4 linked regions of the Homo sapiens genome follow. The protein of the gene in region 1 binds, or shares a complex with, the protein of each later gene. Each region holds a gene or a part of one and is shown in the gene's direction. Other genes may lie near its edges. The genes, in order: PRPF38A, SF3B3, IK and ZMAT2.

The links.
Region 2: PRPF38A (region 1) and SF3B3 share a complex: the UniProt entries of both Homo sapiens proteins name them as parts of the spliceosome B complex.
Region 3: PRPF38A (region 1) and IK share a complex: the UniProt entries of both Homo sapiens proteins name them as parts of the spliceosome B complex.
Region 4: PRPF38A (region 1) and ZMAT2 share a complex: the UniProt entries of both Homo sapiens proteins name them as parts of the spliceosome B complex.

The regions. Positions count from the first base shown.
Region 1 is NC_000001.11:52,400,065-52,407,622, forward strand, and holds the start of PRPF38A (pre-mRNA-splicing factor 38A), read left to right. Parts: upstream 1-4,537; 5' UTR 4,538-4,685; coding exon 4,686-4,815; intron 4,816-5,615; coding exon 5,616-5,775; intron 5,776-7,558. Other genes in the region: ORC1 (origin recognition complex subunit 1), read right to left, coding at 1,298-1,425, 2,065-2,159. UniProt on the Homo sapiens protein: Involved in pre-mRNA splicing as a component of the spliceosome.
Region 2 is NC_000016.10:70,561,804-70,568,824, forward strand, and holds part of SF3B3 (splicing factor 3B subunit 3), read left to right. Parts: intron 1-2,072; coding exon 2,073-2,247; intron 2,248-3,261; coding exon 3,262-3,467; intron 3,468-3,564; coding exon 3,565-3,721; intron 3,722-5,607; coding exon 5,608-5,733; intron 5,734-6,479; coding exon 6,480-6,692; intron 6,693-7,021. UniProt on the Homo sapiens protein: Component of the 17S U2 SnRNP complex of the spliceosome, a large ribonucleoprotein complex that removes introns from transcribed pre-mRNAs.
Region 3 is NC_000005.10:140,643,658-140,650,839, forward strand, and holds the start of IK (protein Red), read left to right. Parts: upstream 1-4,171; 5' UTR 4,172-4,251; coding exon 4,252-4,267; exon of another isoform or gene 4,268-4,269; intron 4,270-4,813; coding exon 4,814-4,880; intron 4,881-7,182. Other genes in the region: TMCO6 (transmembrane and coiled-coil domain-containing protein 6), read left to right, coding at 1-18, 123-309, 443-537, 916-1,083, 1,328-1,441; NDUFA2 (NADH dehydrogenase [ubiquinone] 1 alpha subcomplex subunit 2), read right to left, coding at 1,930-2,021, 3,599-3,705, 3,826-3,926. UniProt on the Homo sapiens protein: Involved in pre-mRNA splicing as a component of the spliceosome. Auxiliary spliceosomal protein that regulates selection of alternative splice sites in a small set of target pre-mRNA species. Required for normal mitotic cell cycle progression.
Region 4 is NC_000005.10:140,695,861-140,703,453, forward strand, and holds the start of ZMAT2 (zinc finger matrin-type protein 2), read left to right. Parts: upstream 1-4,586; 5' UTR 4,587-4,600; coding exon 4,601-4,618; intron 4,619-4,958; coding exon 4,959-5,052; intron 5,053-6,145; coding exon 6,146-6,269; intron 6,270-7,593. Other genes in the region: HARS2 (histidine--tRNA ligase, mitochondrial isoform 4 precursor), read left to right, coding at 243-341, 661-754, 1,083-1,210, 1,304-1,546, 1,709-1,825, 2,072-2,218, 2,633-2,692. UniProt on the Homo sapiens protein: Involved in pre-mRNA splicing as a component of the spliceosome.

The DNA.
Region 1 (7,558 bases):
CGAAGCCCATGATTCTGATGTGCTGCCTCTACTGGACATTAGTTTGATGAGGTTTTTCTCCATACTTCTAAGTATGTCAAAGAGAAAGTATGTCCAAAATCCTCCTTATCTATGTGCAGTACTCTCCCCTTATCTGCTGAGGGTACGCGCCAAGACCAGTAGATGCTTGAACCTGCAGATGCTGCCACTAACCCTGTATATGCTATGATTTTTCCTACACACACATACTGTACAGCACGGATACACTGGACAAAGGGATGACTCACATTTCAGGTGGGACAGCGTGAGATTTCACCACATTACTCACAATGGCACACAATTTAAAGCTTATGACTTGTTTTTTTCTGTAATTTTCCATTTAATATTTTTGGACTATGGTTGTTGTCAGGTAACTGAAATCGCAGAAGGTGAAACCACGGATAAGGGGGACTATAGTAATATAAAACATCTTTATCCACTCAGTCTATCAGTTCCTTCTCTTGGGCATACAGACTACCACAGGATTACCTAATGACCATGCCCTTCTTCTGTCTCTTGAACGAGGCAGTTTTAGATAGTTTCAAATTGCTATCTTCCTAATCCTCCTTGTGGAGCTGTGCCCCACTCCCACATTTCTGTGCTCTCCTCTTGTTTTGCAGAGGGTTAGAAGGTCAGCAAATCAGCTAAGGCTTTCGATGTGGGCTTGTAGGCTCTGGTTGATGCCACCTTCCCTTTTGTTCCTCCAGCCTAGGGGCAGCCGTGGCTTCCTGCACTTACTCATCTCTGGTAAATGTCACCTTTTCTTCTAGCCTTTCCAACATTAACACACAAGTTCCTCTGGGTAAAATATCTTAAGTGTTTTTGTTTTCCCTGACTGAAACCCCAATTGCTACACCTTCCAAATCCAACTTACCTCTTCACTTGTAACGAAGTAGCACTTGCAAAATATATTACTAACCTTCATGCCAAAACTAAAGGACACATCTCTATGATAGTACAAATTACCTGTTTTTTCCTTCTCCCTTTCCCCCAAATTCATCCATTCTCTCCATCCCCCCCAATTCTGCCTTAATAGCCTTGCTTACTCCCCAAAATAATGAAAAAGTTAAATTATTGAGCCTTCCAGTTCCGTTTTACTCAATACTGCTTTGGTGAGTAAAGAAATTTTTTAGATGGAAGAAGACGCAGCTAGTTCTTACGTGATCCCACCTCAGTCTAATGTGCCCTGCACACTGCTGTGAACAAAAGAATCCACAATCTCCCCACCTCCCAATCATTCATGACAAGGAATGGTTTATTATTCCAGTCCCAAACTCACCATCTTCGAACAACTCAAGCAATTTAGCAACATACGGGTTTTCATCATCATCCCCTTCAATCAACACAAACTGTCCAATCTGGATGTGAATCTCGGTGGAACAACCTTCTGTTTTCACACACATTTCTCTAGGAAGTAACAGAGAAGCACATTAGGAAATAACTTAAAGTGGGTCAAGCTCTTCAGATCCCCTGGGCACAAAGGAGAGGGCTCTCCAATCCTGATTTCTTTCTGCTGACCAACTCTCCTACTGGGAAACCAATTCGCCCAGTTATATTTAAGAATAGGCAAAATGGGTTGAATGAATTGTTTTAGCTGAGTAATGAATCCAAAGGTCTTATTAGGAACCCTAATTCCTCTCAGTTATTGACAAAGAACAACAAATGCTTCCCACAACAAATGTTTCCCAAGGCTGTCAAGCTGCCCAGTAACAATGTCAAATTGTCAGAGATCTCCAGGGCTGGGAAAGACATAGTAAAAACATCTATCATCTCGTTTTCATCAAAAGTTATATAGAACTCACCTTAAATAGACATGACATTATCCTACATACAAAATTTTATGAGCCTGCCATAATTTTGCTCCATCACTAACTGCTATATTTATCCCACCATCTTCTTGCATCAAACAAAACCCTCCTTACAATCAGTTCTAATCTCCTGTTCATTCATGGTCAATCTGTAGTAATTAGAACAGGCTAGATACAAGTTGACTGTTTAGCTTGAGAAGCTGTATTTCCAGGACAACCAAAGGACCCCATCACTCACCTATAGGTTTGGTAGTGCAGTTTTCGATCCAACAAGGGCCTGCCAACCCATGAATAAGTTTTTCTGGTCTTCAGCCTTGTGGGGTAGTGTGCCATGGCTTCTGTGGAAGAGTCCAAACTCTGAGTTACCATGATAAATATTTGGTATTTATCTGATGGATTCTAAGACATAGTCAGTCCCTCCCTTCAAATGAGATCAGACTTATTTTCTGCCCCTGCTACACTCCCATACATTTTAGACTAAGAAAACATTTTATTTGAAGTCATGGTCTACGAAGATTACACACAGGCAATTTAGTATCATCTGTGTCCATCTTGTACTATGCCGTATCTCTTTCCATCCAGGAAAACAGAAAGGTCAATTCCTAAGAAATGAAACTGTAACATTTAGAAATACTAGGAATAAGGCAGAACAATAGGTGTAAAACATCTAACAAAGTGAAATTAAAAGACAGTGATACAGGGGTTGTAAATGTCTTCATGACGCTTATAAAATGCACACAAGGATAAAACAGAAATACAAAGGCTGGGCGCAGTGGCTCACGCCTGTAATCCCAGCATTTTGAGAGGCTGAGGTGGGTGGATCACCTGAGGTCAGGAGTTCGGGACCAGCCTGGCCAACATGGTGAAACCCCGTCTCTACTAAAAATACAAAAATCAGGTGGGCATGGTGGCAGGCAAATCACTTGAACCCGGGAGGTGGAGGCTGCAGTGAGCCGAGATCGCAACACTGCACTCTAGTCTGGGTGACAGAGCAGAACTCTGTCTCAAAATAAAAAAAAGAAAAGTAGATGTTATTATCACTTCAAGGTGATAACTTATCCTATCTTATACAGGATGGCACAGCCTTAACTCAAACCCGGAAAAGCCAGACTGCAATTACTGTGCTCTTAACTACTTCACCTTACAACACACTGTGTGAAACTGGATAATGTTAATATGTAACTGAGAGCTTGCTTTTGGTGTACTTATTACAATAAATCAGGCTTCCCAGCCACTGACTGAACATTGTGGATTGGGCCTCAATTTGCTTACCCACAAAATGGAGAAAATAGAATCTTCCGTTTATTCAACCAATATTTATTAAGTACCCATCGTGTGCCAGGCACTATTTTAGGATAATGGAAGATTAAGTGAAAAAATGCAAAATGGTAAATCCACTTTCCCACTACCTTAATCCCTTGCATTTATTTGTAAGGTACAGTGGTTTTATTTATTAAGTATCATTTGATGAATACTATGGAACTAACATAATTCAAGCAAAATTTTGCATTCAATTTCGGCAGATTCACAAACCTCCTAAAGTCCACATATTGCCCTCCATTAAAGTTAAAAACTGTTGCAAAGGGACTTAAACCATTCTGTCATATTGGAAACTCCTTTGGCATTTCCAGCCCACCTAACACAGCAGAGACGAGGGTACTATTATTCATGTGTTACAGACAACTAGAATCGTATATAATCATTGCAGTTTCACAAATAGATCAGGATAAGAATGCCTTTTCCAACTGTCACAGCAGAAGACTCTTCAATTCCGGGGTTAGAAAAGAGAAGTAGGAAGGGGGCCACCAGACTTCTCTTCTGAAAAGAAGGTGAATGACAGACAGCCCAGCAGTTAGGAGCTCATCTGAAAAAAAGATCTGGGTAGGAGCCCAGACTGCTTAGTCACGAAAAGCGACCTAAGACACGTCCCTCCCTGGGCGCAATTTACGTCCGTAAAATGGGGTAATAACCTCTGCTCCGCCTTCCCTGTAGTGGTTCCTACACTATAGCTCAAAGAACGAAACAAGTAGAGTGCTTTACAAATGCAGATGGAGGGAAAGTCATCACTGAGCATCAGGGTGCGGAGGGCAGGAATGCTCCTGCTTCTAGGCTGTTGGCTTCCGCCTTCCCCCCTGCAAACTCAGTTCCCTGCAGCGCGGGAAGCCTTTTAGGAATCGGAGTGTGGAACAGAGGAACGCTCTTAACAGTTCAGAACAGTGCCTGGCACTGAACAGGCGCTTGGTACATGTCAGCTAAAAGAATCAATGACTGAGTCTACAGAGAACGTCCTCAGTTTCAGAGGTTCCGATGCGCCCTCCCCCGAGTCCCTCGCAGCCCGCTGGACGCCACACTCACCCGGCTCCAAAGCTTCCTCCGGCTAGCCGCAAGCCCTCCGTTTCCTACCGCCTCCACTTCGAGAGCTCCGGGGGATGCGGCACCTCTAACCTGCACCAGCAGGGCTCCTTCTACAACTACGGGCCGAAAGCCAGGACCAAAGCGTGTGTCTCACTAGAAATGAAAAGAAGGTGGAAGGAGAAAAGAAAACTTCGCGCCAATCGGCGTGGCCCCGCCCCCAGACCGTCCCTTCGTTGCGACACCAACTAGCTCGCCCCGCCCACTCCGTACACCTAAGAGGGGCGCATGACGTACATCCGCTAACATGCAGCCGCCATCATTGATTCGATAGGCGACGCGGGGAGCGGAAGCCCTTTACACTACGGTGTTTCCGGCTTCAAGATGGTCGCCTAAGCTGTTTAGTGAAACTTCTTCCACCTTTCTCCATTCCTCTAGGTGCTTTTTCTGAACCTGGATGTGAGGCATTAAAGGATCCGACGGAAATAGAATTGAAGGCATTCTAAAATGGCTAACCGTACAGTGAAGGATGCGCACAGCATCCATGGCACCAACCCTCAATATCTGGTGGAGAAGATCATTCGAACGCGAATCTATGAGTCCAAGTACTGGAAAGAGGAGTGCTTTGGACTTACAGGTAAGTGGAAGCGCGCGGAGCGCCTCTCAGCCCCCTTGTGGCCCATTTCTCCTGACCGAGCGCGGGTAGGACTAGCGACTGGCCTCTGGGGGTGGTACTGGAACGGAGTATGTCGATCATTCAGAAAAATTTTGAGTGCCTGCTAAGTGCCTCGTCTTGTGTTGAGTATTAGAGGCACAGATGAATCTGGTAAGGTCATATTCTGAAGGCTGTCTCAGTTGGGTGTTGTGAGTTATTCCGTATTTAATGATAGCAGGCTGGGTTGCAACAGTGTTAAGCTCAGGGATCCGGATATAACACTTTGACACAATCTGTTGAAGGTCTTTAAGGACCTAACGTTAATATGCCTGAAACCAAATTCATGATCTTACTATTCTTAGATCTGGGCCGGTTCCAGTATTTATAAATATCAGTGCTTCAGAGAAGTCTTCCAGGTAATCTTCCGATTTGAATTGTGGCTTTAAATCCATGTCCTGTGACAATCTGTGGACCTTGAGCAAGTCACTTTACCTTTCTTAGCCCTCATTTTCCTTACCTGGAAATAAGAACATTGCTAGAACTTTCTTCATGACTTGTTAAAAAAGGTTAAGTGAGATAATATGAAAAGCTTAGCAGGGTACCTATTTTATTATCCATTCTCAATGTATATTAGCTGTTGTCGTTACTGTTATTAATACACATTCGTTCTCCTAATATTACACTGTTGATGTATATTTAGGAGAACCAAAGCTTGAACTAACTCCACTCCAACTAGGAAGAGCTTAGCCCTAATATGTTACTGTATTGTTTTTGTTTTTTAGCTGAACTTGTAGTCGATAAAGCCATGGAGTTAAGGTTTGTGGGTGGCGTCTATGGTGGCAACATAAAACCAACACCCTTTCTGTGTTTAACCTTGAAGATGCTTCAAATTCAACCCGAGAAGGATATCATTGTAGAGTTTATCAAAAATGAAGATTTCAAGTGAGTGCAATGTTCACTAGCTAATATAAGAGGTTTAATTTTGGCGGTTTAGAATTGGGCTTTGGTTAAGAGGGGTGTACACAATGTATCTCATTTCTAGAGAGTTCCACTCCAGATTTTTGCTTTTGAGCCCTTGAGTTTGTATTTTTTGTTTGTTTTTTGTTTTGGAAACAGAGTCTCTCTGTGTTGCCCAGGCTGGAGTGCAGTGGTGCGATCTCGGCCCACTGCAACCCCCATTTCCTGGGTTCAAGTGATTCTCCTGTCTCAGCCTCCCGAGTAGCTGGGATTACAGGCATGTGCCATCACGCCTGGCTAATTTTTGTATTTTTAGTAGAGATGGGGTTTCACCATGTTGGCCAGGCTGGTCTCGAACTCCAGACTTCAGGTAATCCCCTCCCCCCCCGGGCCTCCCAGAGTGCTGGGATTACAGGCATGAGCCACCACACCCTGCCAAGTTTGTATTTTATCTGTTCTGATTGTATTAATCTTCTACTTTACTTTCTCAGTTTTGGTAATTTTTCCCTGAAAAAGGATTTCACAGATTCACTAAATACATATTAAGCAAAAGTGAGTGCCTGATATGTTGGTAGGCACTGGACGCTCAGGGGTGAAAATCAAACAACAAAAGGTGGTGGTTAAGAGGTGTAAGATCTGGGTTCACATCCAGATTCTGTTGCCCATTAACTATGACATTGGAGAGGTTACTTAATTTTCTAAACTTTGCTTATCTGTAAAATGGTGACTATAATATAAGAGTGAAAGAACGTAATGCATGCAGATCTCTGAACACAGCACTTGCTGCATGGTAAACACCTAGAAAATGTCAGCTTATTACCGTATTACCGATTCTCGAGGAAATCACAAACAAGTATAGGAGACAGACATAATAGCTTCTTATGTGCCATGCTGTAAGGGCTTTGCATATAATAATTCATTTCACTTTCACAACAACCTTCTAAACTTTTAATCCCTATTCTACAGGAGAGGAAACTGAGGCACAGAGATTAATTAATTTTGCCCAAGTTCAAACAGCTAGTAAGTGGCAAATCTGGCTTCAGAGTTCATATTCTTTGCTACAGTATTCTGCTTCTCGTACAAAGAAACTATGACTTTCAAAAGCCTCCTAGTTACCCAAGAGGAAATTTAAGTAGTTAGATATAGGAAAAAGGGAAGAGGAACAACTCTTTTTTTTGTTTGAGACAGAGTCTCGCTCTGTTGCCCAGGCTGGAGTGCAGTGGCGCAGTCTCGGCTCACTGCAAGCTCGGCCTCCTGGGTTCATGCCATTCTCCTGCCTCAGCCTCCCAAGTAGCTGGGACTACAGGCGCCCACCACTACACCCGGCTAATTTTTTGTATTTTTACTAGAGACGGCATTTCACCGCGTTAGCCAGGATGGTCCCGATCTCCTGACCCGGTGACCCACCTGCCTCGCCTCCCAAAGTGCTGGGATTAGAGGCGTGAGCCACCGCCCCTGGCTGGAACGACTCTAATAAAGCATTAACAGCTAGAAAATACCTAACTTTTGTTAGGCACTTACTGTGTGCTCTGTGCTATACTTAGCACTTTCAATGCATTTCTTGTTTATATACCAAGCCATAAATTAGGTAGCATTATCTCCGTTTTACAAGGATTGAGAAAACACATGATTTGACCAGTAGTGTCACAGACTTAGTAAATTACGGAGTCAGAATTTGAACCCAGATGACTTACTTTTTTCCAAAACCAGCAGTCATGTTTATGTGTACTTGTTCTTGTATTGTTATTAAATATATCTTCTTTCTGTT
Region 2 (7,021 bases), on another chromosome or scaffold:
GAAGCTCAGCAGGAAGCCTTTCTGCCAAGGGCTCAGACTGGTTCTGCCAGAGTGTTGGAGGAGGCTGTGAAGAGGTGGCAGAGAGCCGACTTCACCATGAAGCTTGTGTGTTGCAATTGAAACCTTCATTTGGCTCAGCATTTTAGTACCTGAGAGCCAAGTTTCGGTGTTTTAGCTTCTGTTAAGATTTTCAAGGCCAAGCTTTAATACAGTCCAATCTTCCTGAGATTTCAGATTTTTGTTTTCTAGCAAAAGGGTATTGCCATTGGATTAGTTTTAGAGCAAGTATTGGATCACTGCATTGATAACCTTTCTTACTCTGTCTTGTCATTTGCGGTATTAAATCTTAAATGTTAACCTATCTATAAGTTATTTAGACCTTTTTCAAGTTGACAAAACTGTTCTTCCTGGTAATATTGATGTGAAGTTTGAGCACTGTATGTAATATTCTTTGCAAGATGGAAAAGAACCTAAAATAATTCAGTCAGTTTGGCTTCCTCAGGTTTTGGGGGGCTTTTAAAATTAAGCCACCAAAGTTGTTCACATCCTGGTTATAACTATTGGCTGTTCATAATGAAACTATGGCCTCTTGATAGATTAATCACTATTGCTTATCAAATGAGCTCCCAAAATTTCTTTGCAACAACTTTCAGGGTCTTTTCATGGTCATTGTCCTTTTTCTTTCCGTCATCTTTGTATTTATCTTCTGCTCCAGCAGAATTGATCTCCCTGCACTGCTCTACATCACTTAATATTTTTTTAATCTCTACCTGTGCTAGAATGCTTCACCCACATACATACCTGCCTGTCAGTGTTCCCCTTGTCTTTTAAGCCAGCCTTGTTGTAGCCTCATCTGTGGCCCCTACCTCCTGAATTGCTATAGATTTAGACAATCGCTACAGATTTTTAGGCTTTCCTAGCAGCAGAACTTACTTCCCCCCAAAACTAAATCAGGGAAGGTGACTTATGAGACATAAAAGCAGAGTTCTTGGCAGGCAGTTTATTTTTTTATTTAATTATTTTTATTTTTAAGTTTTTTTTTTGAGACAAGGTCTTACTCTGTTGTACAGGTTGGAGTGCAGTGGTGTGATCATGGCTCACTGCAGCCCCAACTTCCTGGGCTCAAGCTATTTCTGCCTCAACCTCCCAAGTACCTGGTGGGACTGTAGGCGCATGCCATCATGCCTGGCTAATTTTTGTGTTCTATTTTATAGAGACAGGATTTCACCTTGGTGCCCAGGCTGGTCTTGAGCTCCTGGGCTCAAGAGATTCTCCCACCTCAGCCTCCCAAGTAGCTGGGACTACAGGCGTGCGCCACCATACATGGCTTTTTTTTTGGTATTTTCAACAGAGTTGGTGTTTCACCATGTTACCCAGGCTTGTCTTGAACTCCTAGCCTTAGGTGATCTGCCTGCTTTGGCCTCCCAAAGTGCTGAGATTACAGGCGTGAGCCACCACACGCAGCCCCTATCTTTTTTAATGTAGAGAATAAACTACAAATAAAACTCCATCATTAGAGATCGGGTAACTATACTTTTCAGAGTACCTGGGTTCTGCTCATTTTGCACATAGTTTGGCTTATGTGTACATCTCTGTCCCATTTGACAGAAATTTGTAGGTCCCTTATTTGCTGTCTCTTGCATTGTCATAGTTTTCCTGAACTGAGGTGATTTTTGTTCACAAAGGTATCCACTTTATTTTATGAAGCACAGTCACTACAAATACCATATATGTTTAGGTAATTGCAGTGTTTCACAACAAATTTGGGATTGGGCTCTTTATTATCATTGGAGTGATTAAAAAAAAACTTTTGACAATCGTTTGTGTTTCATTGGTAGGAACTAGAACTGCTGTGAATTGTGGTAGGGTGTTGCCAAATGGGAAGGCCCTTCCTGGATCTCTGTGTCTGCATCGCAGAGTTTTCTAGAGTAGGAGGCTGTTGTTTAATGTTGCCTAATGCCAACGTTAGAGCTCCAGGGATTGACGTGTTTGCTGACTGCTCAAAGTCTATTTCAACACCAGTTTCTGGGTCCGAGTGAGTATTAAATAACTGCCTTGCTTTTTTGTCATAGGATTTTGGCATTAGAGAAGCTCGGTGCTGTCTTCAATCAAGTAGCCTTCCCACTGCAGTACACACCCAGGAAATTTGTCATCCACCCTGAGAGTAACAACCTTATTATCATTGAAACGGACCACAATGCCTACACTGAGGCCACGAAAGCTCAGAGAAAGCAGCAGATGGCAGAGGTAATGAGACTAACGTTCAGGGGTTCTATTAAAAGATGTGTGAAATTATGTTGAAAAGTTTAAACTGCCCGGCACTTTGGGAGGCTGAGGTGGGAGGATTGCTTGAGGCCACTAGTTCGAGACCAGCCTGGGCAACATAGCAAAACTGCACCTCTATTAAAAATTTTAAAAGATAGCCTGGTGTGTTGGTGCACTCCTGTAGTCCCAGCTACTTGGGAGGCTGAGGCAGGAGGATCACTTGAGCCCAGGAGTTCAAGACTGCAGTGAGCCATGATCATGCCACTGCATACCAGTGGCACTCTGGACACGAGACTCTATCAAAAGTTTAAACTCCTGTAATTGTTAGTATATTCTTTGTTTTTAAAGATCTAGGCTTTTTTCAGCTTTTTTAAGCAGAGGCCTTTGCCCCAAAGTACTTCATTTTAGAGCCTTTCTTGTAACCCAGGACTATACTCTGACCTCCATTTATTCACAATTAAGTTCCCTCTCTGAAACAGAATTCTCCCGTCCTTGAGCTTCCAAAATAGACTGTATTTCCTTTATTTGGGCCCAAAAGAGACAGCTTTCATGTTCTCCACAACACCAGCTCTTTCTAGAACTCATTGCCTAGCAGAAACCAAATAGCTACAACCACGTAGAACTGTATCCATCCTTAAAGAGTGGAGACAGAGTAGTTTTAGTAAGGGAAATCAGATGGGTTGGATAGAAAAGTGGAGTTTCCGTTGTCATTTTTCTCAAGCCACTAGTCCAATATTTGTCACAGCTATTGTTATTTTTGGTGTTTTCTACTAATATGTAACCAGCAATGTCTGGATTTCCCTTTCTGATCTTCTGTCTTCCCTAGTCTGTACACCTCTCCCTTTAATAGTCATGTCGGGAAATCCTGGCTGGGATGGCTGACTTTGCTGCTTTATGTATTGAGAACCCCCTGGAGTGTTCTTGCTACCTATCCTCTTCTCAGCCAGCCCCTACCTCTGAGCACGCCAACTCAGTTACTCGTTTTTTTGGGTTTAGGAAATGGTGGAAGCAGCAGGGGAGGATGAGCGGGAGCTGGCCGCAGAGATGGCAGCAGCATTCCTCAATGAAAACCTCCCTGAATCCATCTTTGGAGCTCCCAAGGCTGGCAATGGGCAGTGGGCCTCTGTGATCCGAGTGATGAATCCCATTCAAGGGAACACACTGGACCTTGTCCAGCTGGAACAGAATGAGGCAGCTTTTAGGTAAGCAGCCCAGGACAGTCCAGGGTTTGGCAGGCTGGAACAGGAGCTCTCTGAGTTTTGACTAAGGCCTTACTCTTGCTTCTTATTCTGTGTGTAGTGTGGCTGTGTGCAGGTTTTCCAACACTGGTGAAGACTGGTATGTGCTGGTGGGTGTGGCCAAGGACCTGATACTAAACCCCCGATCTGTGGCAGGGGGCTTCGTCTATACTTACAAGCTTGTGAACAATGGGGAAAAACTGGAGTTTTTGCACAAGGTAGGAATCTGCCAGTGGTTCTCCTAGATTTTAAGTCCCATTGAATTCTCTCACTTTTGCTTATGTTATGGATCAGGTCTTTTGGGGACCAGCTCCTTGATTCCAATCTCTCTCTTACCAGCACATGGAAAATGCTGGGGCCTTCTAGCTGCAGTGATGTTCTTGTGCCTGTGCATTCCACAGGAAGGCTTTGTGCTAACCATCCATAATGGGGAGATAGATGCACATTCAATTGGTCTCTTTCTTACTGTTTTAATAAGCAGGCAACAATTTGTGACCAAAATTCAGCAGTTTAAATAATTAATATTCTGGCTGGGCGCAGTGGCTCATGCCTGTAATCCCAGCACTTTGGGAGGCCGAGGCAGGCAGATCACCTGAGGTCAGGAGTTCGAGACCAGCCCGGCCAACATGGTGAAAGCCTGTCTCTACTAAAAATACAAAAATCAGCCAGGCATGGCGGCACGCACCTGTAATCCCAGCTGCTCGGGAGGCTAAGACAGGAGAATCGCTTGAACCCGGGAGGCGGAGGTTGCAGTGAGCCGAGATTGCGCCATTGCACTCTAGCCTGGGTGACAAGAGTGAGACTGTCAAAAAAAAAAAAAAGATTTAATATTCTTTTCCACCTGCATTCTCTGGGAAGTTACTGTTTAATGGGTACAGAGTTTCAGTTTGGGAAGATGAAAAAAATTCTGGAGGTGATAGTTACACAACAGTAAATGTGCTTAATGCCACTGAAGTGTATACTTAAAAATGACTGGCTGGGCATGGTGTCTCACGCCTGTAATCCCAGCACTTTGGAAGGCCGAGGTGGGCGGGTCACCTGAGCTCAGGAGTTCAAAACCAGTCTGGTCAACGTGGTGAAATCCCATCTCTATTAAAAATAAAAAATCAGCCAAGCATGGTGGTGGGCGCCTGTAACCCTAGCTATTCCAGAGGCTAAGGCAGGAGAATCACTTGAACCCAGGAGGCAGAGGTTGCAGTGAGCCGAGATTGCGCCACTGCACTCCAGCGTGGGTGACAGAGCGAGACTCTGTCTCAAAAAAAAGAAAAGGATTAAGATGGTAAACTTTATGTTATGACTATTTTACCATAATTTTTAAAATAAAAAGAATATTCTCTTCTCCACAATGACAGCATGTGGATTCCTTCAACCCTACCATAAGGGGAGTATCCTCTAAGAAATACTTCATAGACCCTTTTGCATATTAAATTTGTCTCTCCTTTACAACTGAGATGTCACTAGGCTGGGTGCAGTGGCTCACGCTTGTAATCCCAGCATTTTGGGAGTCTGAGTCGAGCAGGTCACTTGAGCCCAAGAGTTTGAGACCAGCCTGGGCAATGTGGTGAAACTCAGTTTCTACGAAAAATACAGATAATTAGTCAGGCTTGATGGCACATGCCTGTAGTCCCAGCTACTCGGGAGTCTGAGGTGGGAGGATCACCTGAGCCCAGGAAGTCCAGGCTATAGTGAGCCATGATTGCGCCTGCCACAGCCCTTCAGCCTGAGCAGTAGTGAGACCCTGTCTCAAAAAAAAAAAAAAAAGTCACTTTTCACTAGCATTTCTTTCCTGTCCCTCCACAAATTACAGTCACTTGGCTACTAAGGCTTCACTGTTGAAATAACACCAGTTAAACAGAGCACAAGCTCTGGACAGCAGTCGTCTGGTACCAGAACTTCTTGTCAGTTACAGCATTGATCCCTCTACTGAGTGAATGCAGCATGCGGAACTTGTTCACCCCAACACCCAGATTCATTAGCAAAATAAGCTCACTGGTGTGTTTCTTAATGATAGGCTCCTGTGGAAGTAGGCATTTCTGGGCAGAGAGGTGAGGCCTGTGTCTGGCTGGCATTTATAATAGCTGTATTACCTGCTTTTCCTCTATAGACTCCTGTGGAAGAGGTCCCTGCTGCTATTGCCCCATTCCAGGGGAGGGTGTTGATTGGTGTGGGGAAGCTGTTGCGTGTCTATGACCTGGGAAAGAAGAAGTTACTCCGAAAATGTGAGAATAAGGTAAGTGTGCTGGCATTGGTGCTGAGATCTAGCTCATGTGTCAAGGGTGGGGGCATTGGTGGGGTGGTGGGCATTGAGTTTTAAAATCTTATCTTTATTAGGACTTGTTGTGTTACCCCAATTCCAGCTTCAGAATTATGCCCTTGTTTTTTTGTTTTTTGGTTTTTGAGACGGAGTCTCGCCCTGTTGCCCAGGCTGGAGTGCAGTGGCGCAATCTCGGCTCACTGCAACCTCCGCCTCCTGGGTTCAAGCGATTCTCCTGCCTCAGCCTCCCAAGTAGCTGGGATTACAGATGCGCGCCACCACGCCTGGCAAATTTTTTGTATCTTTAGTAGAGACAGGGTTTTACCATGTTGGCCAGGCTAGTCTCTTAACTCCTGATCTCATGATCTACCCGCCTTAGCCTCCCAAAGTCCTGGGTTTACAGGCGTGAGCCACCGCACCGGCCCTTGAGTTTTGAGAGGAGCAGGAGTAGAGGGATCTCATTTCTTGACTTACCAAACAAGAACCAGCTTTCTATCTTGCTAGCTTCTATAAGGAAAGTAAATGTGAGAGTTAGGCATATATTTGCACTATATTAAAAGCTATTTGGCTCTTTTTTCCCACCTAGAATTCATTGCTAACTGCTGGTTTTTGGTATTTGCTGTTCTGCTGACCCTACGTATGTCATACGGAAAGCTGGGCTTTCTTTGGGTTCTGAACCCCAAGATTACACCCACCATCACTATTGTCTTTGTTTTTCCCAGCATATTGCCAATTATATCTCTGGGATCCAGACTATCGGACATAGGGTAATTGTATCTGATGTCCAAGAAAGTTTCATCTGGGTTCGCTACAAGCGTAATGAAAACCAGCTTATCATCTTTGCTGATGATACCTACCCCCGATGGGTCACTACAGCCAGCCTCCTGGACTATGACACTGTGGCTGGGGCAGACAAGTTTGGCAACATATGTGTGGTGAGTTGATGTTGTTAACTTGGGTTACAGTGATGTGTAGGAAAGCTGGCTCAGTTTCTTGTGGGTAAAGCCAAGGAGGAATCAAATCTGAGAAGTAAAAATGGATATAAAATTCCATCCTACTAAAGCTAACTCTACAAGCAATCTGTTCTTTAAGCCTTCTTACTAGTCTTTTGGATTTTTCTCTGTGGTTTATCTCCCTCCTCCCTATTGAACGTGATTTAATGATAGGTTTAGTTTGAGCTAATGGCTAATATTTCTTTTTACATTTTATAAGAACTTTGGAATGTCTGTTATCTATGTTGTGTGGTTTTGGTTTTACCCTTAGC
Region 3 (7,182 bases), on another chromosome or scaffold:
GATGCAGGACTGGAGCTGGTAGGTGAAGATGTCAGGTGAAATTCTGGGAGATGTTTCTTGATACTCTGGAATGCAGGTAACCTCTTCCTTCTTACACCTGACCCCCCAATTTGTCTTTGCAGCTGGCATGCCCCGTGCTTCGATGTCTAAGCAACCTGCTAACTGAGGCAGCAGTGGAGACTGTGGGAGGGCAAATGCAGCTCAGAGATGAGCGTGTTGTGGCAGCCTTATTTATCCTTCTGCAGTTCTTTTTCCAGAAACAGCCCAGTCTGCTCCCTGAGGGCCTTTGGCTCCTCAACAACCTCACTGGTACGCACCATAATCTGCCCAGGCCTGGACATTTGGATAATGGGGATATTTCCTCATGGCCTAGGCTGAGGTGGGTAGTATTGACAGGGGTGGTGGGGGAAAGCAGTTTTTCACCCTGGTACTTCTCTTCCAGCAAACAGTCCTAGTTTCTGTACCTCCTTGCTCTCCCTGGATCTGATTGAGCCTCTCTTACAGCTGTTGCCAGTATCTAACGTGGTGAGCGTAATGGTATGTATTGGGGTTACTTGAATCCAAGATCTGGTAGTCGGATTGTATGGGACAGCAGTCCTGAGCCCTCAGATGTACCCTTAGTTGAGAGCCAGCAGGTGGTGGTGTGTGGCCTCAGGGCCCAACCAATCTAGGTGTGTGTCCCTTAAACTGGATTATTTATCCTTGGACAAATCAACTAACCACCTTAAGCTTCAGTCTCCTCACTTATAACTGAGGATAATCTTGCATCATAGGGTAGTTGTAGGAGTATGAGAACATGTATGTAGAAGAGCTTGGCATGGTGCCTGGGCATGTGGTCACCATGTCATATATTTTAGCTATTGTTATGATCTTTGTGTTTCATTCTTTGTAGACTATATATGTGTCTATCTGCAGGTGCTCACAGTTCTGTGCAATGTTGCAGAAAAGGGTCCTGCTTACTGCCAGCGGCTGTGGCCAGGGCCCCTGCTTCCCGCCTTGCTGCACACACTAGCCTTTTCTGACACTGAAGTAGTAGGCCAGAGTTTGGAGCTGCTGCATCTGCTGTTCCTGTATCAGCCAGAGGTATAGGTTTCTGGCCCACATCCTCAGTCACCCCTGTTCTGAAGCCACACAGTGGCTCCCTTCCCATCCAGTCCTAACTATAGTTGTTTCTCTGGGCCTGGCTAACCTATATAGGTTCCATGTCAGAAACTTCATCCTCTTGTTGGGGAATGCACCCTCTGGAGTAGGCTGACCCATGAGGCTGTGGGAATTGAGTCTTAGGACACAGAGACCAGGTGTGTTGAATTTTCTTCCCTGCCCCTAGGCTGTTCAGGTCTTCCTGCAGCAGTCAGGGCTGCAAGCCCTGGAAAGGCATCAGGAAGAGGCCCAGCTCCAGGATCGTGTGTATGCTCTCCAGCAGACAGCTCTTCAAGGGTGATCTTGTTTCTCAATGTCACTCATTCCCCTCTCTCTTAACATCAAGCTTGTTTGTCCAGTAGAGCCTTTGGAGATTTAGGACCATAATGAGGTCTCATGTTCTCTGCTCCCACACCTAAGCCAAGACCTTTGGGTCCCAGCTCCTCCCCTTCCACTCAGCACTATCCAGGCAGGAGGACCAAAAGGGACTCAGTGTGGTCTACTTACTCTGGGGCCCTAGAATCCCTGCCCCCCCGCCACCCTTCATGTTTGCTTCAGCAGCTGGTAGCTTTTGATGAGACAGAATAAAGTTTTATTTTTATATTAAGCTACTTTGCCTCAGTGGTTGCACAGTAAGGGGTAGAGGGTAGATGAGGACAAGAACACCCTGAGAAAGTATTTTACAGCACAAGCTTTATGAGGAATAGGAGAACACATTTTTTTCACATTATACTAAGTCCAGCAGAGCCCAGGCTCTGGGGCTGTTGCTCTTAATCCTCAGTGGAGGCTTCAGGCTTTACCACTTAGAACGTTCTCCAGGGCTCTGGTTACCTGATCAGCACTGAAGTTGTTCAAAGGGACATTCGTCTCTTGGCCAAATGCTGAAGAGAGAGAGGGAGGTGTCTTTAACTATTCTGCACCCTGGAGGCTACCAAAGTAAAATAAAAGATCTTTGTCTTTATCTTAGTCTTGTTAAGACAGGAAGAGTATTAAAGAGATATGATCAAAATACATTTGGTATGCCTAGAATTAATACAATAGGTCTCAAACACATCTAGGAAGCCCAAGTCCAAATAGAATTTTGGCTGATTCTGGATGGCCGCAATGGGTTGTTTCAGGGAAGCTTTCGGGGGCACTGTAGGCATTTATTATTAACTACGGTGAGCAATGTATTGCATGGGTCCAGCCTCAGCTGGGAGCCCATTCTCTCTCTTTTTTTTTTTTTTTTTTTGAGACGGAGTCTCGCTCTGTCACCCAGGCTGGAGTGTGGTGGCACGATCTCCACTCACTGCAACCTCCACCTCCTGGGTTCAAGCAATTCTCCTGCCTCAGCCTCCTGAGTAGCTGGGATTACAGGTGCCCGCCACCACACCCGGCTAATTTTTGTATGTTTAGTAGAGACGGGGTTTTACCATGTTGGCCAGGCTGGTCTTGAACTCCTGACCTCAGGTGATCCACCTGCTTCAGCCTCCCAAAGTGCTGGGATTACAGGCGTGAACCACCGCACCCAGCTGGGTACCCATTCTCTAGGCTCCCATAGGCTATCTAACATAATACCCAGCACAATACACTAAAGTTACTCGTGTCTATCTCCTCCTGTAGTCTACTGGCTTTTGGAAGGAGAAGCTTTTTTCCTTCTCCAATTATTAGTGCATGTCTAATGTCTACTGTGTCTCACAGATATCTACTCTGAGAACCAATCTGCTTAAGGTGGTCACTCTCCTCCACCTCCTCCCGTCATTCCCAGGGCACCATATAGTTAAAAGCTGTGATTAAAATCCTGTTATTCAGTATGTATAAACATTTATTGCATACCTACAATGTGTTAGGCAACATGATAGGAAAATTTCATTTTGCAATACATTGCCATGCCAGTCTTAGAGGGGTAAGTGCATTCTAGGAAGGGGAATAAATGTAAAGGCTCAATCCTGTTAAACTCTAGCTGCATCTAAAGTTGCAGCTAGAGTTTAACAATAGTGCAAAACAAAGTTTTGATTCCGTTTTCTAATCTCTACAGTGAGAAAAGAAGAACACGCTTCCTCCTAACTAATGAAGATTAAATGAGTTAGGCAGGGAAGCACTCAGCACAGGGCCCAGCTCTATGTGCAAAATTACTGAGATTCTCACACACTACCTGGACTGACACTGGCTACACGTTATTTGGAGAAACTATATTGACTAACTTCTCTCCTGTCTGAAGCCCATTCTTAACTACAAAAACGTCAGCTCCTGGTCCCTACGCAGGATTCGGTCAGCCTGCATACTTATGTTGCCCGGAATACAACGCATCATATAACCCTGCGAATATAAATTTCTTCATGGAAACAAGATCAACAGCAAGGCTAAAGTCCGAGTTCTAGTTTCTCCACGGGTTTCTGCACGACCTTGGGCGGTCCCTTCTCTTCTCAAACCCTTGTTCCCCTACCGGAGCCCCAGACCCCTGGCGTCCCGCACTCACCGTAGCGGGCCCAGAGCTTGGGCTGCACATCGGAGCATTCGCGGATTAGGATGGGTAGGTCGGGATTCGCCTTCTTCAGCTCCACGTAGCGTTTCTCAATGAAGTCCCTGCGGGGCCGGAGAGAGCGCCGCGCGTGCTGTGGGCGGGGGCTTCCCTCAACTTCAGGGAGGTCGAGGTCGTGACCCTGGCGTCCCGAAGCCCGCCCGCCTCACCACGCCGCGCCTCACCTGACGCCCTGGCTGCCGGGCGAGCGCTGACATAAGTGGATGCGAATCTCACGCAGGCCCAGCTTTGCCCCGACTCCTCGACTTGCTGCGGCCGCCGCCATCCTTGTTAATATCGAAGTCGCCAATTCCAGGTCTTCAGGCCAAGTGCTCCGGTCTGACCAACCGCGGACCCTAAAGCCTAGCCCATAGGCTGCATGAGGCAGGGGCGGGGTAAAGCTTGGCCAATGATATAAAAGTATTGTAGGACCGCTGCGAGGTCAATTTCTTTGCGCTCGGGGTTGGTCGGAGGGAAAAACAGGAAGCGGAAAGGCTGCGAACGCAAAGCAGTGTGGGTTGATTCTGAGGTGCACTGTGGGAAAGAGCTTGTCGCTGCGGTGTTGCTGTTGGAGACTCGATTGTTGGTGACAGCGAAAGAACGATAACAAAATGCCGGAGCGAGATAGTAAGGCTCAGGCCATCCGTTATTTCTTCCCCATGGCACTTGGGGCACTTGGCGCATTATTGTAGCTTCTGAGCTTAAGCCGGGTGTGTGTGTGTGTGTGTGTGTGTGTGTGTGTGTGTGTATGTATGTATGTGTGACGCTTGAGCCCGGAGAAGCCACAGGGTCCTAAGTGAGGCCGACAGCTCCAAACTCCGTCCCCAGTCCTCACTCCTACTCCAAGTGATGATGGGCGGCTTTTGTGCGTGGATCGCTTTCCCCCAGTCCTGTCCCCATACTTAATCCTGGGTTGCGCGTATTTATCTTTTACGTAGTATTTTAGACGTGATCTTCCGGAAGTCTTCTCTGATCCTCCAGCGCAGGATTAGGGTCCTCTGCTTTGTGCTCCCACAGCTTCTTGTAGTTTCCTATTTCAGCACTTATTACATTGTGTTGACACTGTCGCTGTTCTAACTTTTGTTCTGTATTGTTCACTACTATATCTCAAATTTTTGCATAGGATCTGACACGTAAGAGACTGATTAAATTAACGTCAATTTTTTTTGTCAGGTGAGCCGTTCTCCAACCCTTTGGCCCCCGATGGCCACGATGTGGATGATCCTCACTCCTTCCACCAGTGAGTATTTTGTGCTAGGACCATGGAAATGAGTTGGGCAATGAATAGAAAAGTGGTGGTGATGGTGAAAGAATTCTGAATGTCTTGTCATCAAGGATGGTAAAAAATTATACCCGCTGGCCCTTTATCTCTGTGAGCCTTAACTGGATCAGGCCAAGTGCATAAGGGTATTAGAAGGGAAATTCCTGCAGGAAAGGTGTTAAGTTTTTTTTTTTTTTTATACGTGTTGTGTAATTACACATTATATAGGAATTACTTCTTCCAATAGCAAATTAAAACATAGGAAATAAGGGTAAAATCATCTTTTTATTTTTTTTGAGACTGAGTTTCGCTCTTGTTGCTCAGGCTGGAATGCAGTGGTGCGATCTCGGCTCACCACAACCTCCGCCTCCCGGGTTCAAGCAATTCTCCTGCCTCAGCCTTCCGAGTAGCTGGGATTACAGGCATGTTCCACTACGCCCGGCTAATTTTGTATTTTTAGTAGAGATGGGGTTTCTCCATGTTGATCAGGCTGGTCTTGAAATCCCGACTTCAGGTGATCCACCCGCCTCTGCCTCCCAAAGTGGTGGGAGTACAGGCGTGAGCCACCGTGCCTGGCCCCCGATAAAATCATCTTTGATAACATCCCCAATTCCAGTCCATTTCTTTTTTTTTTTCTTTTCTTTTCTTTTCTTTCTTTTTTTTTTTTTTTGAGACGGAGTCTCACTGTTACCCAGGCTGGAGTGCAGTGATGCAATCTTGGCTCACTGCAACCTCTGCCTCCTGAGTTCAAGCGGTTCTCCTGCCTCAGCCTCCCAAGTAGCTGGGACTACAGGCATGTGCCACCATGCACGACTGATTTTTTTTTTTGTATTTTTAGTAGAGACAGGGTTTCACTGTGTTCGTCAGGCTGGTCTTGAACTCCTGGCCTGAAGTGATCCACCCGCCTCAGCCTCCTAAAGTGCTGGCATTACAGGCGTGAGCCACCGTGCCCAGCCTCAGTCCTTTTCTTAGAAGTAACCACAGTTACCTTTTTTGGCATATCTTTTCCTCCCGTTGCCCAGGCTGGAGTTCAATGGCATTATTTCTGCTCACAGCAACCTTTGCCTCCTGGGCTCAAGCAATTCTTCTGCCTCAGTTTCCCCAGTAGCTGGGATTACAGGCATGCCCCACCATGCTTGGCTAATTTTTGTATTAGTAGAGACAGGGTTTCGCTATGTTGGCCAGGCTGGTCTTGAACTCCTGACCTCAAATGATCTGCCCGTCTCGGCGGCCCAAAGTGCTGGGATTACAGGCGTGAGCCACTGCGCCTGGCCCTCCTACTCTTTTTTAAATGCATTTATACACATACATGCATATCTGAGGAAAACACAACATTGCTTTGTGATTTAAAATATTTGAGTTAAATGATATTATGCTGTATATATCATTTTTGCAACTTGCTTCTTTTTAAACCCTGCTCAGTGTTTCTGAGATTATCTTTCAGAGCAGTGACAAGCATTCCCTCCTTGGCTAAACTTTAGTCAGGTTCCCCAAAGAGTCCCATTTTTCAGCAGGACTCATCCGTGGCCTGCTGAGCACAGTTTTAACAAAGAAATCAACCACCGCTCCACCCCCATACCTAACCAAGTTGCTTTTAGTAATTTTCTATAAATTCTCACTTGTCCCTGTTGTATTCGGAATTAAGTTCAGTCTCTCTACTCTATTACAATGGTCTTGACTCTTGTTACAGTAGTCTTCAATAAAGTCTTCCTTGGGGAGAAGAGGAACTTGATTAGATATCAAGTTGGATTGGATATCAAGAGTGGGAAAACTTTCTGTGAACTGACTTAGGATTCCTTTTTAAAACTGAGGTCAGCAGGCCAAGGAAGAGCCCTAGTCAGAAGAGAGCTTTAAAGGAGTCTGACTTTAATTTGATCAAGAGAGGAGTCTTTGTTAGTGTACCAATTAAAATAATCTCTTGTACCATTAGTGCTGTCTTTCCCTCTTTGGGAAACACCATCATAGTTTAGTCAGTCTCCAGCTAATAAACGCTTAGTCTGTTTCAGACTGATTCTTTTCTTTTTTTTATTTTTTTGAGACAGAGTCTTGCTCTTTTTGCCCAGGCTGGAGTGTAATACCTAGATCTCGGCTCACTGCAAACTCCGCCTCCCAGGTTCAAGCGATTTTCCTGCCTCAGCCTCCTGAGTAGCTAGGATTACAGGCGCCCACCACAACGCCCAGCTAATTTTTTTGTATTTTTAGTAGAGATGGGATATCACCATGTTGGCCATGCTGGTCTTGAACTCCTGACCTCGGGTGATCCGCCTGCGTCAGCCTCCCA
Region 4 (7,593 bases), on another chromosome or scaffold:
AGAACTGTGGGAGAAGTCTGGATTTGGCCTAATACTGTTTATGCAAGTCCCAAACTTGGGTGACTCCAACCCTTAAGCCTGCAACTGTAGGACTTTCCTAGTAAAGCTGTTGTATTTCCTATATGTCTGTACTCTTCCTGTGAAATTTCCATCCTTTTTGTGTGTCAGGAAAGTAGGTACTGCCATTGTTTTGAGTGGAAGGGCATTGACAAGCACTTGGGTCACTGACATTGAGTTCTCAGGTAAATGACCGGCGGATTGTGGATGGGATGTTTGCTGTCTGTGGTGTTCCTGAAAGCAAGTTCCGTGCCATCTGCTCCTCCATAGATAAACTAGACAAGGTAACAAAGAAGACATACTTCAGTAGACCCTATCTAGCTTCTGCCCTGCCCTCAAATCCATACCACTAGTGAAAAATAAGGAGATTGTGGCTGGAAGTGGGCTATTTTGGGGTGGAAGGTAAGGAGGCATACTCTGAAGGAAGATCTGAGTCATGCTATACAGTGGGGATTGTGACTGGATTTCTTAAGCTGTCTCTGACTTTGCTGAGTATACAGTTAGCTACTTGTGATGTATATACTGAATGGAAGTTGAGTTGTCCTTTTTCAGTTTGAGAAAGAAAGATCTTGGGGCTGGGCTAATGTTTGGGTGTTTATGCAGATGGCTTGGAAAGATGTGAGACATGAGATGGTGGTGAAGAAAGGCCTGGCTCCTGAGGTGGCTGATCGAATTGGGGACTATGTCCAGTGTCATGGTAAGAACCAGGGTTTTCAGAGCTGTGATAGAACCAGGCTGAAGGTGACATGTGCTCAAATTCTACCTCTGAAACAACTCTTTTCTGTAGATATGCTAAGCTCCAGGGCCTGTCCTGAATTTAATTTCTCTTTTACTTATTGTAACGACTTTGTGTCTTCAGATGGCAAAGCTAGAGGCAAAGGAGGAGGGTCTTGTCATGTGAGACTGGGATCTTTTTTTTTTTTTTTTTTTTTTAAAGAAAATGAGGAAGACTAGCTAGAGCACATTAGGGATAATTTTGAATGAAACACATGTGAGTGAACAGCAGAGACTTTATTTCTCTCCAGGTGGGGTATCCCTAGTAGAGCAAATGTTTCAGGATCCCAGACTATCCCAGAACAAGCAGGCCCTGGAGGGCCTGGGAGACCTAAAGCTGCTATTTGAATACCTGACTTTATTTGGAATTGCTGATAAGGTAAGCTGAATTGCAAATGGACCTCCTGCTGAGCTCTAGGGCTCTCAGGGTCCCGAGTCTAGTTTGGGACTGACTGTAATCTTGTCCCCACAGATCTCCTTTGACCTCAGCCTGGCTCGGGGCCTAGACTACTATACAGGAGTGATCTATGAAGCAGTGCTGCTGCAGACCCCAACTCAGGCTGGGGAGGAGCCCCTGAATGTGGGCAGTGTGGCTGCTGGTGGGCGCTATGATGGGCTGGTGGGCATGTTTGACCCCAAGGGCCACAAGGTGCCATGTGTGGGACTCAGCATTGGGGTTGAGCGAATCTTCTACATTGTGGAGCAGAGGATGAAGGTAGGTCCTAGATAGGTGTGAGGTGGGGCTGGAGACCTAAAAACCCTCCTGTTTCTGGAGGTGTAGTTGGAGTGGTTTTCTGATGATTCTTTTTGTCTTGATTTTTGGAATTGCTGGTGGAAAGGAGGTTTTTATTAGTTTTACTTTCTTCTCTCTTATTAGACCAAAGGTGAGAAGGTGCGGACTACAGAGACTCAAGTGTTTGTGGCCACACCACAGAAGAACTTTCTCCAAGAACGGTTGAAGCTTATTGCAGAGCTTTGGGATTCTGGAATCAAGGTATGGTGGAGCTGATATCTGAGCCATCTGGGTATGTGTGGAATTTAGGACCCAGGGCTATATCTATCTTATGTCTGGGGTGGAACTCAAAACCTTTTTAGTCTGCTAGCTACTACTGGCTACTAGATTGGCTTTTTAGGGTAGGCGGACTAGCCACTTATCTCTGGCTTTCTTGGATATCCATGTTCCTGAGGTTTGTTGCTGTGTTCACTTCTAAGTCCCTTACTCTGTCTTGATCCTTTTCAGGCAGAGATGCTATACAAGAACAACCCCAAACTATTAACCCAGCTGCACTATTGTGAGAGCACAGGCATTCCACTGGTGGTCATTATTGGTGAGCAAGAACTGAAAGAAGGGGTCATCAAGATCCGTTCAGTGGCCAGCAGAGAGGAGGTGAGTGGCGGCAGCAGAAATAGAAGGGACGAAGTATTTCTGCCTTTCCCAGATTCTGTAAGAAATATGCATCTTCTGGCTGAGAAATTATCTTCATGGTTAATAGTGGTAGAGATGAACAAACACTCACTCAAGATGACCATTGCTGCCTGTGAGTATTGACTGGGTGGCCAGAAGAAAGACAAATGAAATCCGAATGGGTATTTTGAGACTAATCAACATAATAGACATAGATCAGGTGTTTGAATCCCTTTCATCTTGAGGGTATACATTCTTCAGGTCAACCCACACTACTCCTTTCTGGTTGTATAAGTAATGGGAGAAGATGCAGAGTAAAACAAATCTGGAAAAACAGTGGCTAAGGAGTTAGTATCACTTTCTAGTTTATCACATGAGGATTCTCTTATGTTTCAGGTGGCCATTAAACGGGAAAATTTTGTGGCTGAAATTCAGAAGCGACTGTCTGAGTCTTGATCCTTGCCTGATTCCCATCTGCTGCTCTTTGTAGAAAAGGTTTCCTCTAGAACTGAATTCCTCTGGAATTGAGTGATGGACTTCACAACAACTAGCCAGGAAGGGTGACAAGTACCTTCTGCCTCCTCCATTCTTCCTGGGTGCAGAACTGTAGAAGACCCTGAGGACTCCTGGGCTAGTGTGAGCAGCTATTCTGCATGGGTGCAGATGGCTGGATGTGAAAGAGACATGCTCTAGCTGCAGAGGCAAATTTGAAGTGCCACGGAACGTTGTCAAGAGGTAGTGAGATTGTTGCTGTGAGCAAGGCTCTGGGAGAGTCACCTCAGGCTCAGGATTCTGAACCATTGAGATCAGAAACCAGATACTTAGCCTTCTACTGTAGCTACGGAACCAGATTCTGGTGAATTTGTCCACAATCAGCCATTGGCCTGTCTGGGGAGTTTTTGGAAGACAGCAAAGAGGGGCAATGGCTGCTTTCAGCTTTGAGGACAGATGCTATCCTAAGGGCATGGCAGTACCCATGTTGATTTGACATCTCTCTAGCCCATCCATTGCTTACAGTAGAAGAGTGGGGCTGTATGCTTGATAATCTTGAACATTGAACTTAATAGATGACTTGACAAGGTAGAGATCTGATATTTTGAGATTTTGGAGACCATTTCCTGTGCCAGAATCACTGCTCTATTCCATACCGTGCCATGGAGGCTGTTTTAGAAGTGGTTGGATAACATGTTAAATAAAATATTAAGTGTAGTAGTTTGGGTAATTTGTTATTGTTATCAAGGGCTTTGTTTGCATAGACCATAGAAAATGCTTGAGTGTACATTGGAGAATTCTGTGAGGTAGAAGTAACCTCCCTGGGATGATGCTTCTGTATTCAGTGATGAGCAGCCACAGTTTCTCCCTCTTTCCCTGTCTCCTCAAGAGGTAGTTTTTTTGTTTGTTTGTTTTTAGACGGAGTCTTGCTCTGTCACCCAGGCTAGAGTGCAGTGGCGTGATCTCGGCTCACTGCAACCTCCGCCTCTCAGGTTCAAGAGATTCTCCTGCTTCAGCCTCCCGAGTAGCCAGCTAATTTTTGTATTTTTAGTAGAGACAGGGTTTCACCATCTTGGCCAGGCTGGTCTCAAACTCCTGACCTCATAATCCACCCACCTCAGCCTCCCAAAGTGCTGGGATTACAGGCATGAGCCACTGTGCCCGGCCAAGAGGTAGTTTTGTTGCTAAAAATCAACATATAGTGAGCCGGTATGCCACAGTGCTTCACTCTAGAGTGTTGTTGATGACTGGCCTTTCCAAATCCAATTATGCTGATTAAATTATGTTCTACTATAAAGTTCCCCAGATGATGGAAAAATAAGTGAACCAAAGGGTGGTAGCATTGCTTCAAGGAAAAGAGCCCAAGTGCAAAACATGCTTTTTATATGTGCGTCGGGAAGGGTGCCTCTGTTGCAAACGTTTCAGTGTAGTTTAGGGTCATATCCCTAGTGCATGCAGGTGAATGAGAGGCATCTAGACCCCCTAATGGCGCTTCGGCCTTAAAAAAGGTTTAGAAATTCTTGGCAGTGGACGCAAAGTTGCTAGACTAGATCAGAGACCACTGTTTTGCGAACCTCAGTTTCCTTGTTTGTAAAATAGTTGAACTAAATCTTGACCCTTTAATGCTTGTTTTGAAATCCAAGGCAAAAAACAATTGCAAGCGCCCTTACTTCCGTGTTGCTTCATACTCCTCTTGCGCCTGCGCTGTCTCCTTGGAGCAGAGGCGGGGCCAACAAGCCTGTTTTAGAAACCCTCCAGTCCTTAGCTCGTTTAGAACACAAGACTCCAAGCTTATTGGAGGGCTATCTTGCCTTACGGCTCCAAGCCGCTTTTTACGGCGTTTTTCAGCTCGCCATTCACTTCGCTGTGAAGATGGCGTCGGGCAGCGGGGTAGGTGTTGTGTCTGAGGAGGAGGTTTTGCGGGGTGGGGAATGGTTTTTCAGACCTGAATAGAGACAAACTCCTGCACCCGACTGGCTTCCCGATATCTCCTCGAGATCCCAGGGTTCAGGTTCAAGAACTCCCCAGTAATAGGCCTTGGCAGAGGGTCAGTAGAATCGCGGAGGTTTCTCGGGTTGGGGTCTTGAGGCTACCTCAGTCTTCTCGTACAGTCCAAAGAGGCTTTGCTTTCAAAACGTCCTGTAGACACCTGGACCGCGAGGGCGCGGTTCCCTGCTTCTCTAGGGGCCCAGACACGGCGACGGATCTTGACGCTTTTTCCTCCCCACAGACAAAAAACTTGGACTTTCGCCGAAAGTGGGACAAAGATGAATATGAGAAACTCGCCGAGAAGAGGCTCACGGAAGAGAGAGAAAAGAAAGATGGTGGGTGCTAACTACATCAAGGGCTAAGGGTATCACAGAGGCGATGCGATGATGGAGAGCGGGTGGGAGTTGAAGTGCGCTGCCTTCCCACGCGGTGTAAGCTCTGGCAGAGTGCTGCTTCCCTGGGCCTAGGTTTCTGCATTTACAAAATGAGAGCGAGGAGGTGGGATGAAGTAAGTAGTTTTGAGATGCTCTTCAGCTCTATTTCACTCTGCTTCCTTGCCCACCCTTTGCTTGGCTCGTTTAATGCTTTCCTGAAGTACAGAGAAGATAACGGCATCCTTAGTAGTGACAGAGAAGTTAAGTAGAGTATTTTGCTGCTGTGCATTACCGCTATCAGTGACCCCCCTCTTTCCCTTGAAATTTCTTAAGGGAGAGAACATTCCTGGCCCAATCAAGACCCTCCCATATAGTCTGAGAAAAGCCGGGGAACTTTGCAGGATCTGTGATTGTTTCAGCTAGAGCTTAGTAGTGCTGTTTCTCTGTGCCTTGTACATCAGGGAGTTGGTGCTTCTCTCCTGTTTAAGAGATTGCATAAAGAAATGTTTTATTTTGTCATCTGTTTCAAACGTGTACATTCTTCTTTCCCTTTACCTCCAGGCCACCTTGCACTCACTAACTCTTTCATTTTTTATGTAACATGTAAAATAAATAGTGCTTGACATGTAACAGGCATTTCCTAGATGTTGGTCCCCTTTTATAAATTTGCCCAGCTCTCAGAAGGTTCCTTTCCGTTATGCCTAGGGTATCTGCCTGAAAGCATTCTTGAATGTCCTTGCTCCCGTTTTGAAAAAGTTGCTTCTAGTAATTCTTCAGAAATTCTCCCCCACAATTCAGTTAATCAATGAATATAAAACATACTGTTTTTAGATTTGCTGGCTTTAAAGTGGAGAAAAGCTGTAGAGTTGAGGATTGCTTATGATTTCTTCCTGTGTTGAGATTCTCCCCAGCTGCTACTTTAAGTGTCTGTTGTGTCCTTTCAGGAATGATTTTGAAATGAGTAAGACCTGAATTTTGGATTTCATGCATTTTTTTTCCTTTCTGGTTGAGGAACTATAATATTGAAGGGACTTCCTTCCCCATTATGTTTCAGGAAAACCAGTGCAGCCTGTCAAGCGAGAGCTTTTACGGCATAGGGACTACAAGGTGGACTTGGAATCCAAGCTTGGGAAGACAATTGTCATTACCAAGACAACCCCTCAATCTGAGATGGGAGGGTGAGTTGCTTATCATTTTTCCTCTGCAGCCAAGAATGCATCTAATAAGCCACCTATTTTGGTTTTAGGAAGTGTTAAGGAAGGTCCTTGGCCCCAGGATTACGTCCTTCTTGCCTGTAATTCTATCTTTATATTTGTTTTTCTGTGTCTCCCAAGGTCTCAAGTTGACATGATAGTGTCTCTAGGAGTGGTCACTCAGTGGGTTTCTTCATGTTATTAGCATTGGCTGGGCACAGTGGCTCACGCCTGTATTCCCAGCACTTTGGGAGGCCAAGGCAGGAGGATTGCTTGAGCCCAGGAATTCAAGACCAGCCTGGGTAACACAGTGAGACCCTGTCTCAATTAAAAAAACCAAAACAAACAAAAATCATACTATGAGCACTACAGCTACTACTCAATATAGTTTTTAAATTTTTTATTGCCATTGTACTTGTTATCAATTCTGATTTACTATTAATATTTTAAAAGGGATTATTTGATCTGTCAGAAGAAGAAATGAAGGAAAGGACTACTGAGGAGATTTCTAGGAGAGAAATTAGGTGGAGCTAGAATAGAGCCTAGGAGTTGTTAATGGTGAAGAAGAGGGGTTTGAGGTTCCAGACTAGCTGCAAAGGCTGTAGTTGTTATGGATGCCTGATTGTACACCTTCTTCCAAGACTATAACCTATAGGAAGAAGGGTCCTACAAGAGCTTGTCACCCTTTTGCCCCCCACTGCTTCTCTGTCCAGTTAGGTTTTCTGGCAGGAGAGCAACACAGATAGCAATGAGTGACACTTCTCTGAGCTGCTTAGTAAACCCACTGTTGTCCATTCCTGTCTGTATTAGTTATCTATTGTTATGTAAATTAACAAATTAACCTAAAGCTTAGCAGCATAAACTACACCACTCACAGTTTCTTTGGGTAAGGAATCTGGGAGTGGCTTACCTAGGTGGTTCTGGCTCAGGGTCTTCATGAAGCTGCAATCAAGGAGTTGGCAAGGTAGGTCTGCATTCATATGAATCTTAAGTGGGGCTGGAAGATCTGCTTCCAAGCTCTCTCACATGCCTGTGGTTTGGAAGCCTAAGTTCTTTGCCCCATAGACCTTTCTTTTTTCTTTTTCTTTTTTCTTTTCTTTTTTTTTTTTTTTCTGAGACAGAGTTTCACTCTTCTTGCCCAGGATGAAATGCAATGGTATGATCTCGGCTCACCACAGCCTCGCCTCCTGGGTTCAAGCGATTCTCCTGCCTCAGCCTCCCAAGTAGCTGGGATTACAGGCATGCACCACCTGATTTTTTTGTATTTTTAGTAGAGACGGGGTTTCTCCGTGTTGGTCAGGCTAGTCTC